Linked DNA regions of Homo sapiens: regions 2, 3 and 4 are each reported to be linked to region 1. Evidence: microRNA targets listed by miRTarBase, many of them from high-throughput screens and not tested one by one. Region 1 holds a microRNA gene; each other region holds the end of a gene's coding sequence.

The links. Region 1 holds the annotated microRNA hsa-miR-190a-3p (CUAUAUAUCAAACAUAUUCCU, at 1,674-1,694, opposite strand). A microRNA usually pairs through its seed, bases 2 to 8, with sites in the 3' UTR of a target mRNA and lowers its output. Matches are read on the target gene's strand: a 7mer-m8 pairs with bases 2 to 8, a 7mer-A1 pairs with bases 2 to 7 and ends in A, and an 8mer does both.
Region 2: the mRNA of PLEKHA6 is a reported target of hsa-miR-190a-3p. The part of its 3' UTR that is shown has no 7-base or 8-base seed match.
Region 3: the mRNA of KCNMB4 is a reported target of hsa-miR-190a-3p. Seed matches in the 3' UTR shown: 7mer-m8 at 2,679-2,685.
Region 4: miRTarBase lists HOXD10 as a target of hsa-miR-190a-3p. Seed matches in the 3' UTR shown: 7mer-m8 at 660-666, 7mer-m8 at 662-668, 7mer-m8 at 664-670, 7mer-m8 at 666-672, 7mer-m8 at 668-674, 7mer-m8 at 670-676 and 7 more.

What each region holds. Positions count from the first base shown.
Region 1 is chr15:62,822,595-62,825,701 of GRCh38, reverse strand. MIR190A (microRNA 190a) reads right to left here and starts at 1,745; the gene lies at 1,661-1,745. All of the region lies in intron 54 of TLN2 (talin 2), which reads right to left.
Region 2 is chr1:204,220,788-204,223,894 of GRCh38, reverse strand. It overlaps PLEKHA6 (pleckstrin homology domain containing A6), which reads left to right. Exons shown (of 23, transcript NM_014935.5): 22 at 310-433; 23 at 1,116-3,107. The coding sequence ends at 425. Among named protein-coding and RNA genes, the nearest start is that of GOLT1A, 8.4 kb to the right of the region's middle. RefSeq lists enhancers at 793-1,292, 1,293-1,794.
Region 3 is chr12:70,430,240-70,433,346 of GRCh38, forward strand. It overlaps KCNMB4 (potassium calcium-activated channel subfamily M regulatory beta subunit 4), which reads left to right. Exons shown (of 3, transcript NM_014505.6): 3 at 246-3,107. The coding sequence ends at 414. Among named protein-coding and RNA genes, the nearest start is that of PTPRB-AS1, 36 kb to the right of the region's middle.
Region 4 is chr2:176,118,778-176,121,884 of GRCh38, forward strand. HOXD10 (homeobox D10) reads left to right here. Exons shown (of 2, transcript NM_002148.4): 2 at 177-1,160. The coding sequence ends at 454. Among named protein-coding and RNA genes, the nearest start is that of HOXD9, 2.4 kb to the right of the region's middle.

The DNA.
Region 1 (3,107 bases):
ATTGTATTTTTAGTAGAGACTGGGTGAAACCCAGCTGTTGGTCAGGCTGGTCTCGAACTCCTGACCTCAAATGATCCGCCCACCTTGGCCTCCCAAACTGCTGGGATTACAGGTGTGAGCCACCATGCCCGGCCCCATACTTGCTTTTCACACCCTGTATGCTCCTGGTCTGGAACCAATGAGTGCCACTCAAAGCCCAAGTGCAGCCATACAGAAAATGCTGTATTTGTCCTCCTCCTTCCTGAACAGTTGGTTCCTTTTTCCCTTCACCATATTAATCACTACAGAGAACATGCTGGTCAGTGACAAAGTCACCCAAAGAAACAAGAAAATCACATCAATTCAAACAACTGGGCTTCGTCTGCAGGTCCTTTTGAAACCATGTTTTTCTTTGTTCGTAATAACTTGCTGTCTCTTTTCCATGGCCATTTGCCATTTCAGTCAAACAATGTAACTGGACTCAAAACCAAAGCCGGTGTTCTCTAGCTGTGTGAAGGAGGGACTGATTGGGGCAGCATCTTGAAACCCGCCTGACAGAGCACCTGCCAACACACACAGATCGCTTCTCAATGGAGAAGGATTCCAGAGACAGGATCCATTATGTAACTCCAGAAGCCAGGACTCCAACATTACAGGACCCTCTCCTGTGTCATCACCTCTCTGATGTTGCTGTTGGTGACCCTGTCACTATGCATTCACCTGTAAGCAATGTGGCAATGACTTCTAGACACAGTAAGGGGAAGCTTTCATGACTACCTGTTTAAACCATTTGCTTACACCTTTTCTCCTCCAAAACATTGAGAACAGTAGTTCTCTTTCCAGAAAGCAGTGCTCACAAAGTATTTTGTTTGTTGAGAGAACTCAGAATGAACTCACACATACTTCACAGGCTTTTCTATAAGGAAGAGGTCAAAACCAACCAAAGAAGGCTGTTATGTACCAGAAAAAATGTTTTCTATATCATAATCCCAAACTTCCTGCCACAGTCAATTAGGCTATGATATTACTTTCCGATTGTTGGCTTATTCTAAATATTACCAACCTCCACTGACAAGTTAACCTATAACAGGAAATTCAAGAGTTCAGTCAACATTATATTACCTTCATGAGATATATTTAGTCCTATATCCAAGGTTTGTACAAAGCTCACTGACTCAGTATCCATGCAGCTGGTATGGAGGATTTGCTTTATACATTCTGTTACTGTGAGTGGAAAGGGAAGTCATAGAAAACTGATCTGTGCTCCTTGAATTTTTGCTGAAACCCTGACATGAACTTCTAAATTGAAGATCAGGATAAAAATGAACCAAAATGAAACATGAATCTAGATGTGTTTGAGGCTATAATCCTGACCTTTATTCTGTGTCACAGACATGGGTTGGAACCGTTTTTTCCACCAAGCATATTGAATTCCTTAAGGATTCATCACTGCACAAAACTAAGCCACACAGAATACCCCAGGCTCTTATGAAACATCAACACTTATTGTTTCTATAATAAGCAAGTAATCCAGTAATACTGATACAGGTCTCAAATGCTATAAGAAGAAATGGAAGATAACATGAATTGTAATGAGTGCTCCATCTTCTAAATCTACTTGTGATTTTAACGTGTTCTTTCCTGTTGCCTTATAAACTTTATTAGGAACCCCCGGAGACAGGGCAAGACACTGTAGGAATATGTTTGATATATAGTTGGATTAAATAACAACCTAATATATCAAACATATCACACAGAGGCCTGCAGAAAAGGCATCCAGGTTTGACTGAGCTCGAGACTAGGCACAGTATTGAAGGTTACGGCTGCAGGGGGTGGTCACTTTTGCAGCAACTCCGATAACTGTCTTTGGAGCACAAGTCTGCCTGCAGATGTGGAAACGGCGCCATTAACAATACTGTCAGCACATGCACCAGCGCTCACTGACATTCTCATCTCCCCAGGTGAACAGCAGATTCAACGGTGCATGTCTGGGAGATCCCAGGCAAAAAGTGATGCTTAAGTTTTAAGAGCCTGAGGTGGAAATGTACCAGAATCATCATCAAAGACCATGAGCCATTCTCCTTTAAAAACAGGCAACCTGAGACGGTGGTGAGCAGAGCATTTTAGACAAAATTACTGTCTCTCCCCAAACTCTTCCTGAAAGCAGTGTGAATACTCCCCAGAAGGAACACACATCCATTTTATACTGAAGGCATGTGTGTGTACCAGGGTAGGGTTATAGGGATGTAATAAGCAATTGTTTACTGACAGTACCCTGAGGATTTTTTTAAGGTTTTGGGAGAGAATGGAGAGAAGTGATTCAACTCAAAAGACTGGCTGATTTTGGTGCAGATTGTTGTTATTGTTTTTTAATTGGGGAAATAAATTCCTTTATAAAGGCAAGGAAGATATTTCATGCAAAAGTTATTGCAATGTGCCCTATTAGGCACAAAAACTATGGTTTGGGTTGCAGGTTTTCCAAAACAGTTTCATAGATAATATCCACCTCTGGCCATCAGGCAGAGAAAGACTTCAGACCATTGTGAAGCATTCTAGAAGTACCCATCACCCTTCCTAATACGATGGGAGTGAGCTAAGGTAGGAACCCTCAAACAAAGGATTCACATCATCAGTTATGTTAACCTTGACCTTGGCCGAAGGACTCCTTGGCTTTCCTGTAAAAACCCTCAATGTAAACACAAAGGCTATATGATCCTAGAGTACTGTAGGGAGTCCTCACAGGCCTACTTCAGCAGTCATTAATTTTTAAGGTGCTGTTATTTTTTAAACCTTTGTTTTATAAAATGTTAAAACACAGACCCTTCCATCATCCCAATTCCATCATCATTCTTGTACATTCCCTACTTATTTTCTTCATCTGTGAGTTTTTAGAGTTGTAATCATAATAAGTACATAATTCTGCATCCTTTCTGTTATACCATGAGCATTTTCTTCGTGCTACACAGTCCTAGCAACCATTATTTTTCATAGCTGCATAATATTATAGCTGCATAATATTCCTTCGAGGAGTAGCTCTAAGGGCACACATAAACTACAAATGGCCTTTGTGGGACTAGACAAGCCTTCTCTGACAATGGGGTGGGAAACAGGGGCTGGTATGGACTGAA
Region 2 (3,107 bases), not on the chromosome of region 1:
GAATCTCCCCATTGTGTGGATGGGAGGGGAGCCCTTTGCCCAGAGATGGCCTGGCCTTACCCACAGTCACACTGGTTCTCAGCAGAGCCTAGATTCGGCCAGGTCTCCTCTGGGGCCTCACACTCTCCTCCACGACGCCCTGGGAATGAGGACAGCTTGGCCTAGCTTGAGCAAGCTCCAAGCTCAGTGCTCTCTCTTCGCTTGCCTCCCTGCCTCACTCCCTGCCTGGGGAGGGCCTCGCTTGCTCTGGGTGCCCACCCTCCTCCCCCACCCACCCCCATTCACCTCCCTGTTCATTTCTGTTTCCAGTGCAATGTGCCACCCCAAGCCCTCCCACCTCCCCTGCTTCCCCGGCTCCTCCAGCAAACCCCCTGTCGTCTGAATCCCCACGGGGCGCCGACAGCAGCTATACCATGCGGGTCTGAGCTCTGACGTAAGCACTTTTCTACTGTATTTCATCCACCTCGGGAGTGGGGCCCCTTCCTTCACCCCCATTGAGCCATCTATGCCCTCTCATTTTGGTATTGCTTCTCCCCTACCCCAGTGCCCTGTGCTGCTCCTCCCCACTATCCATCCATTCATCCATCCATCCGTCCATCCAGCTTCCCCACGCAGTGCTGGGCTGGAGCCAGCTGGCAGGGCCGCTTCTTGGATGTTGTGATGCCAATGGCCTTTGCTTCTCCAGAAGCAGGCAGGGAATGGAGCCGAGACCTCACCTGTCTGCTCTCAGGGAAGGCTCTTCCCTGACACCCCACCCCTGTGCCTCCTGTCTGCTGACAAGCTTTCCATCTGTTGAGATACACAGATGCAGAACCTTCAGAAGCCCTCAGAAGCTGTTTCTCCACTCCCAGATCTTACTGTAAATTAAAATAACATTGACAACTACGGCCAAAGGCTGTGAACCCTTCCCTTGCCCCTAGCCCACAGCCGCTCACTCTCAGTCAAGTAGAAAAGAACACTGACTTCCTTTCCTTTGTTCCCCTCTCAGGACTGAGGGACCGGAGTGGGTTTCTGCCAGGTTTTTGCAGGATGAGGCTTCTTTTTCCTGGGAAGGTTGGCTGGAGTCCTTGCTCCTCTGTGCAGCACTCTTCTCACTCCATTTCTTTTTTCTCCAGTGCAAGCCCTGGCTGAGGCCAATGCTGTGAAGCTCCACAGAGCCACATTCTGAAGCCGTCCTCTGCCCACCTGAGGTCCTGGCTCCCCACCCTGGCCCCCTGCCCCTGCACTCCCATGGGAATGCCGCAGGGAGCCAGGCTGGGGCCATGGGCTGCTGCCAGAGGACCGTGGATACCTCAGTGTCCACACACCCACCATGCCCAGCCCTGGAGCCATCACTACTCACACCGTGGTCCTGGGCCAGGGCCTGAGATGACAGTGGGGAGCACCATCCTCATTAATGTCCAAGTCACAGGGAGCCTCAGCCTTGCCCTGGCTGGGGTTGTGGTGACTCCAGTGGAACATTCCCTGATGGGGGACATGCCGTGGTGGAGAACACACCTGTGGCTATCTTATGTGAGGACTAGAGGTGAAGAGGAGATGGACACTGCCTCTGGAGCCAGCCTGACACCAAGGACAGCACTTGTCATCATCCCTATCCTCGTCAGCCCCACCCTACTGCCTCAGCTGGACCCAGGGCTTTGACACAAACCCAGTGCTTTGCTTATGGGTGCTCGCTGGGGTCCGGTGGAGACTGACCACCCTGCTTGAGCCAAAGACAAGGTGATGAGAGATGGGGAGAGGCCATTGGCTCCCAGAGGGAACAGTGCTGGCTGTGGCTAGAGAACAGCAGGTCTGTGCAGTGTCTGAGGGCAGGTTGGGAAGGGTAGCAGAGAGAGAGAGACAGAAAGAGAGAGAGAGAGAGAGAGAGAGAGAGATCCTCAGAGTGGAAGGAGGGGGAAGCAGCAGGACACATTGGCAAGTCAAGCAGGAAGGAGGGAGATGGAAAGGGGATATCAGATTGGTTTCCCCCGGTGGAGCCTTAGGTTAGTGCCCAGTGCAGTGCCAGACTGTCTCCTCTGCTCCTCCCACCTCATCCCTAGGAGGACCCACCAGTGGAGCACATGCAGCCTCAGTGGAGATGCTTGGTGTGGGGATCTGGGTGAAGGGGGTTGAGTAGCGACTGCCTGGGAGATGGCTGTTAGTAGGTCTGTGCCTGGTGTCTGCCTCGCCATCCTGGGGTAAGGGGCAGAGAGAAGGACTTGTCTTATGTAGGGTGTGGTCAGCCTTGGGGCCTTACCTACCCAGTTCCATGATATTTCTTGCCCTGTTCCCCCTGGAATGTGCAGTGGGCCAGCTGAGAGTACGCCTTGAGGAGGGGGGATGAGGCCTTAATCTGGGAGGCCTATCCCCCTATCCCAGGCATCCCAGACGAGGACTGGCTGAGGCTAGGCGCTCTCATGATCCACCTGCCCCGGGAGGGCAGCGGGGAAGACAGAGAAAAGCAAACGCATTCCTCCTCAGCTCCACCCACCTGGAGACGAATGTAGCCAGAGAGGAGGAAGGAGGGAAACTGAAGACACCGTGGCCCCTCGGCCTTCTCTCTGCTAGAGTTGCCGCTCAGAGGCTTCAGCCTGACTTCCAGCGGTCCCAAGAACACCTACTAATTCCTCTGCACTCCTTCATGGCTGGGACAGTTACTGGTTCATATGCAAGTAAAGATGACAATTTACTCAACAAATATTTATCGAGCACCTTTTATGTACCAGGCACTGTTGTAGGTGCTTAGGATATTCTCATGTTTCTGAGGGATTACAGCCTGGGAGGATTCCACCGATCTTCACTTCTAGCAGGTTTTTTAAACGTGACCCTTGGCTGTATTTCCCATCTTCACAGTTCAAGCACCCCAAACCTGCCCTTTCTCCCCTGCAGACTGGCAGGTGGGATTGGCTCCCAGGTCATTTCCTCTCTCTCTCTTTCTCCCAAGCCTTTCTCCCTCCACAGGAAACAGATTTTTCAGGGCCTTCCATGCCTGCCACTTTGTCCGTCTCTTTTTTTTTTTTTAAAGTAATATTTTTTAGAAATACATGTAAAATACCAAGAAATAATGTCTGCGCCTCTGCCACCTCTCTCTCATCTCTTATTTCATAAAGCTGGCTCTTTATGTTGCT
Region 3 (3,107 bases), not on the chromosome of region 1:
CATTTTTGACACTTTGTAACATGTAAATTATAATTAATACATAAATTTGCACCAATTACTTGACTCAAGAGCTCAAAACTTTCTGTAATGGGTTTGAAGCACAAAAATACAGTGTTTATAGTCAGAGTGCAGCCTTTACTTTCAATAATGGTTATGGAAAGCAAGTTTGGCTTTAGGTTGTAAAGAGTTTTTCAGTGCCAAGGCATTTGACTGCCCTTTCTTTCTTATTCTCCATTGTCTTGCAGACCAGATGATGTGCTTCTGCATCGCACTCATGATGAGATTGTCCTCCTGCATTGCTTCCTCTGGCCCCTGGTGACATTTGTGGTGGGCGTTCTCATTGTGGTCCTGACCATCTGTGCCAAGAGCTTGGCGGTCAAGGCGGAAGCCATGAAGAAGCGCAAGTTCTCTTAAAGGGGAAGGAGGCTTGTAGAAAGCAAAGTACAGAAGCTGTACTCATCGGCACGCGTCCACCTGCGGAACCTGTGTTTCCTGGCGCAGGAGATGGACAGGGCCACGACAGGGCTCTGAGAGGCTCATCCCTCAGTGGCAACAGAAACAGGCACAACTGGAAGACTTGGAACCTCAAAGCTTGTATTCCATCTGCTGTAGCAATGGCTAAAGGGTCAAGATCTTAGCTGTATGGAGTAACTATTTCAGAAAACCCTATAAGAAGTTCATTTTCTTTCAAAAGTAACAGTATATTATTTGTACAGTGTAGTATACAAACCATTATGATTTATGCTACTTAAAAATATTAAAATAGAGTGGTCTGTGTTATTTTCTATTTCCTTTTTTATGCTTAGAACACCAGGGTTTAAAAAAAAAAAAAAGGTGAGGACATCTGGGTCTCATTTGCTTCTGCTAGGTTAAACTTTTACTTGACAACAAGGATTCCTGCTGAAGTCTGAACCTTACTGTGTAACCCTCAGTTTCCACTATTAAAGAGTATCTTTTGACGTCTGCTTGGAAAATGAATAGTATACTGGTAACTCAGTCTCCAGTCACCTCTGTGTCTCTTAAGCAAGAGATTCTAAAAGATTGGGAAAACATATCCTCCAACACCTGCCTTTGCCTAACCATTATTTTTCACCAGATTACTTCTTAAGAGAGGGAGGTGATTCTGAAGAAGGCTTCTATCTCAAAAAGCACTGGGCTTCCTTATTCATCTGTTCTTGTTGTTTTTGACGGAGTTAAAAAAGTTTGTGTGCAATACAATATACATGATGTGAAGGACACTCTTCAGCTTAGTGAAACGCTGTTTTCATTTTTTTTTTTTTTTGTAGGTCAGAAAAAAACAACAAAATCAGTTCAAGCATTTTTTTTTCTTTGTCCTTGCCTTGATGTTATGAGTATTAAAACCAGGAGGATTGCTGCCATTGTGCAGTTTGCTTAGACAAACCTGGAGATGCAACCCAGCTCACATCATTGCTACTGATGAGCTTTCTGTGCCTTTATCAAAAGTTGATTGAGAAGACCATATTTCTTTGTATCTTTTTATAAACTCAAATTCCAAGTATCAAATCGCAGGTCTCAGTGAACATCAAACCTATTTACTACATAGAATCAAACCTTTGTTTAGGTGAGATGTACATCGTTAGTGGAGGAAAAACTGACAACCTAATTTCATTTGTTTTCTTCTGATACTCTTCAGACATGCCTCTATTAGAATAAAGGTAAACTGGAATTTAAAGACAAGTTCCCCTCAGTTATTTCCATGGAGCTGTAATATGTATATATGGAGTGATGGTTTCCTGACCTTTAGTCCACATACCAATGTTTTCTTTTTTCTTTTTTTTTTTTTTTTTTGAGATGGTGTCTCACTCTGTTGCCAGGCTGGAGTGCAGTGGCACGATCTCGGCTCACTACAGTCTCCACCTCCTGGGTTCAAGTCATTCCTCTGCCTCAGCCTCCCGAGTAGCTGGGACTACAGGCACGCACCACCACGCCTGGCTAATTTTTTTGTATTTTTAGTAGAGACGGGGTTTCACCGTGTTAGCCAGGATGGTCTCAATCTCCTGACCTTGTGATCTGCCCACTTCACCTCCCAAAGTGCTGGGATTACAGGCCAATGTTTTCTTAATCTTAGAATGTGAATAACTGAAAATCATAGTCTGTGGAAAGGTGTTGAATTGAGTATAATCTTCTTCTGTTTATTTTTGTGTTTTGTTTTTTAACAGATGGGTATCTTGCTATGTTGCCCAGGATGGAGTGCAGTAGCTATTCACAGGTATGATCATAGCACACTGCAGCCTCAAGCTCCTGGGCTCAAGCGATCCCCCTCCCTCAGCCTCCCAAGTATCTGGGGTTACTGGTGTGCACCACCGTGCTTGGCTCCAATAATTTTTTTTCTAATTCAAAAGTTACAGTTTCACTGTGAAAAAGGCCTTGAACACACTATTTATGACATCTTTTGAGGCAGCTCCAGTGCCTTGACTTCAATCCCAGTTTCCGGTTGCAGCATCCTTGTTGTCTTAGCAACACAGTGAACTATTCTGAAGCATAGAGTAACACGAAACTGGGAGTCCGAGAAATAATCATCTCTGCATCACATTATGGGAGACGAAGTCTGCTTTATCCATTTTATCTTTATTCAGTTGTCTATGATTAATTGATTACAGAGTAGTAGATTAGAATAGTGCATGGATATACATTTGTGTTGAAAAAAGGGGAAGTTGATATATATCAATCTTAGTTTTCATTTATCAGTTTGATATTCATGCATTTACACTAAACGCTTCCATTTATCCCGAAAAAGTATATGCAACTGTATTCTGTAGGTTGATTTTTGGAAAAGGGGAGAAGCACACTGAATTCATAAGGTCACATGTAGTCTTAAGGTCTTACTTGCTTACAGCCAATTAAATTTGAAGCACCTTATTTATACTTGTTAAAGGTAAAACCCAAAAGAACAAGCAGAGGACATTTTAAGGTCATAAAAGGTAAATAAGCTTACCTTCTTAATGTTTTCATTCTCTTTTTGTATAAATCAGAAAATGATCTAAACTGCTGTAACAAAGAGACCCCAAAATATGATGGCTCATGTAAGATAATTTATTTTTTTCTCACATAGCAATCCAGAAGTGGCTTCATTTCACAAGGTATTC
Region 4 (3,107 bases), not on the chromosome of region 1:
GCATTTTCCAAAGCGGCCTGGCTGCCAGCAGGGTCACGGCCAAGGGTACATTTGAACAGTCTGAAGAAAAAAACAAAAACGAAAACCAAAACCAAAACCAAAACAAAAACAAAAACAAAAACAAACAAACAAAAAACCTCTTGATTTTTTTCTTCTTCTCCCTTTAATTTTGTTAGAGGAAATCAAGTCTGATACACCAACCAGCAATTGGCTCACTGCAAAGAGTGGCAGAAAGAAGAGGTGCCCTTACACTAAGCACCAAACGCTGGAATTAGAAAAAGAGTTCTTGTTCAATATGTACCTCACCCGCGAGCGCCGCCTAGAGATCAGTAAGAGCGTTAACCTCACCGACAGGCAGGTCAAGATTTGGTTTCAAAACCGCCGAATGAAACTCAAGAAGATGAGCCGAGAGAACCGGATCCGAGAACTGACCGCCAACCTCACGTTTTCTTAGGTCTGAGGCCGGTCTGAGGCCGGTCAGAGGCCAGGATTGGAGAGGGGGCACCGCGTTCCAGGGCCCAGTGCTGGAGGACTGGGAAAGCGGAAACAAAACCTTCACCGCTCTTTGTTTGTTGTTTTGTTGTATTTTGTTTTCCTGCTAGAATGTGACTTTGGGGTCATTATGTTCGTGCTGCAAGTGATCTGTAATCCCTATGAGTATATATATATATATATATATATATATATAAAAACTTAGCACGTGTAATTTATTATTTTTTCATCGTAATGCAGGGTAACTATTATTGCGCATTTTCATTTGGGTCTTAACTTATTGGAACTGTAGAGCATCCATCCATCCATCCATCCAGCAATGTGACTTTTTCATGTCTTTCCTAACACAAAAGGTCTATGTGTGTGGTTAGTCCATGAACTCATGGCATTTTGAATACATCCAGTACTTTAAAAATGACATATATATTTAAAAAAAAAAGATTAAGAAAACCCACAAGTTGGAGGGAGGGGGACTTAAAAAGCACATTACAATGTATCTTTTCACAAATGAATTTAGCAGTTGTCCTTGGTGAGATGGGATATTGGCGATTTATGCCTTGTAGCCTTTCCCTTGTGGTGCATCTGTGGTTTGGTAGAAGTACAACAGCAACCTGTCCTTTCTGTGCATGTTCTGGTCGCATGTATAATGCAATAAACTCTGGAAATGAGTTCACTCCCTCTGCTTTCTGAAATGGAAATATGTTATGGTGGAAATGAAAGCCTATGGTGAGATTATCTTCTGGTTACACTCCCTGTTTGGGGCATTTGGGCAGGGGAGTGATAGACTAGTAGGGGAAGGGAGATGGGGGAGAAAAGCTGGAGGAGGCCTAGGGTGTTGGATTTTGGCAGTGGTTGGGGGAGAGGAATTATAAGCTAGCTTGAGAGTGAAGTTTTCATAATTGGGAGGAAGGGGAGTCTCCTCTTTCCTTTCCCAGTCCCCAGTGATAGTAACATAATTGCGCTCTCAATGGGTGTGAGCTTTCCTCTGGCCTGAACCTGGTAAGTAAGCCTATACCCCAAGCCACTTTCTCCTCAAAGCTTCCCATTTGTGTGTTTTCTCCTCTTTGGTTTTGGTTGTGTTGTTTTTAATGCTTTCAGTGGCATCTTGGTGATTTCTGGCTGGCGAGCAATCATCAGGGGCTAGGTTGAAGCTAGTCTTGCCCACCTGGAAGTTGCCGGCCTCCATTACAGGAGCAAGGACAAACAGCAGTGTAGCACTGCAGCGGATCCAATTCTGCCCCCTTTCCCTCAGCCCTACCCCCATCCCAAGCGCAAGACAGCCAGACCCCAGAGAAGCCGAGGATGGGTGAGTTTTCCCATCCCACTTCGCCTTGATCTCCTTGTGGACGGGTTTTATGCTCAGTCATTACCTTTTAGTGGCCCACATGAAATTTTGTTAAAGGAAGAAATGAAAAGATTTTCCCCAGTCAGTCTTTCCTCTATTTAATTACAAAATGCTGGTGGGAACTGCTGCATCTGGGATGCAAGAAAATGCAGAAAGGGTGACTGAAAATTTTGCAAATGAACATGACTTCCCATGAAGTCTAATGTTCCATTCGCTGCCATGGTCCAGGGGACTCCCACCAGCTTCCACCGGCTTCAACAGGATCTCCACTAGAGAGCCCAGACTTATCTAGTCCTGTCGGGGAAAAGGGAGAAGAGGCCTTGCAGGAGAAAGCTAACAGAAAATTCGTTACCTGAGGTCCTGCCTGCAGTTTCAAATAGCTTCCAGCAGTTTTACAAAACACATCCTTTCCATTTCTTCCTTTTAAATGTTTCCCTAAGAACGATCCATTTAGGTGCTATAAGTCCTCAGCCAGGGAGTCTCTGGGACACTGGCATTCAAAATTTTAAACTTCCGCCCCAAAACCAGGAACATTCCAAGACAGAACTCTTTTAGGGGGCCATTTCCTGGGGGTGGGGGAGAGGGCTTGGAATCAATGCTAGATTGAAAACGTTGTAATAGCTTTGCCCCAGACTTAACACCGGTTGGGCAGGAGGAGGGTAATTTTTATTTAGCCGTTTCTCCGATCATGTGGGGAATACCATTAGCTGTTGATAGCGGGCCATGTATCCGAGGAAAGCCTGAGCTACAAGGCAAAGGCATCCCATCTGGAACAAAATCAGAAAGCTATTGGCAAAGGTAATCAATCAGGCCATAAATAGCCATTTACCCGCTTCCTTTTCGGGGCTGGAGGTGGGCCGGGAGCCCTCCAAGGGTGAGCTGGGCAACTTGTAGAGCAAGGAATATGCCCTCCGCTGCCGGCGCCCCGGCCGCTTTTGTCTGGGCTCCCAGCCGGGCTTCCGAGGCTTTGTACCATGGATTTGGGAGTGACAATGGGCATTTCCCTCAGATTCAAGGCTGCTCAACCTCACCTCTGTAGGGGGAAAAAAATCAGAAGGGAGTGTCCCAAGGACCTAGCCATTCGGCCGAATTTTTTAGACATTTTGGGAGTCTCCTCCGAGGCCTTTAAGTGCGAACCGCGCGAAGCGGCCCTGCCCGGGGAGACTCGCTGAGGCAGGGCTGAGGCGGCGGGCGGGAGCAAGCTGCTCTAGCATTTGGGTTCTGCCCTGTGGCGTGTTCTCTTCCAGGGCCTTTCCAGCATCATCGGAGA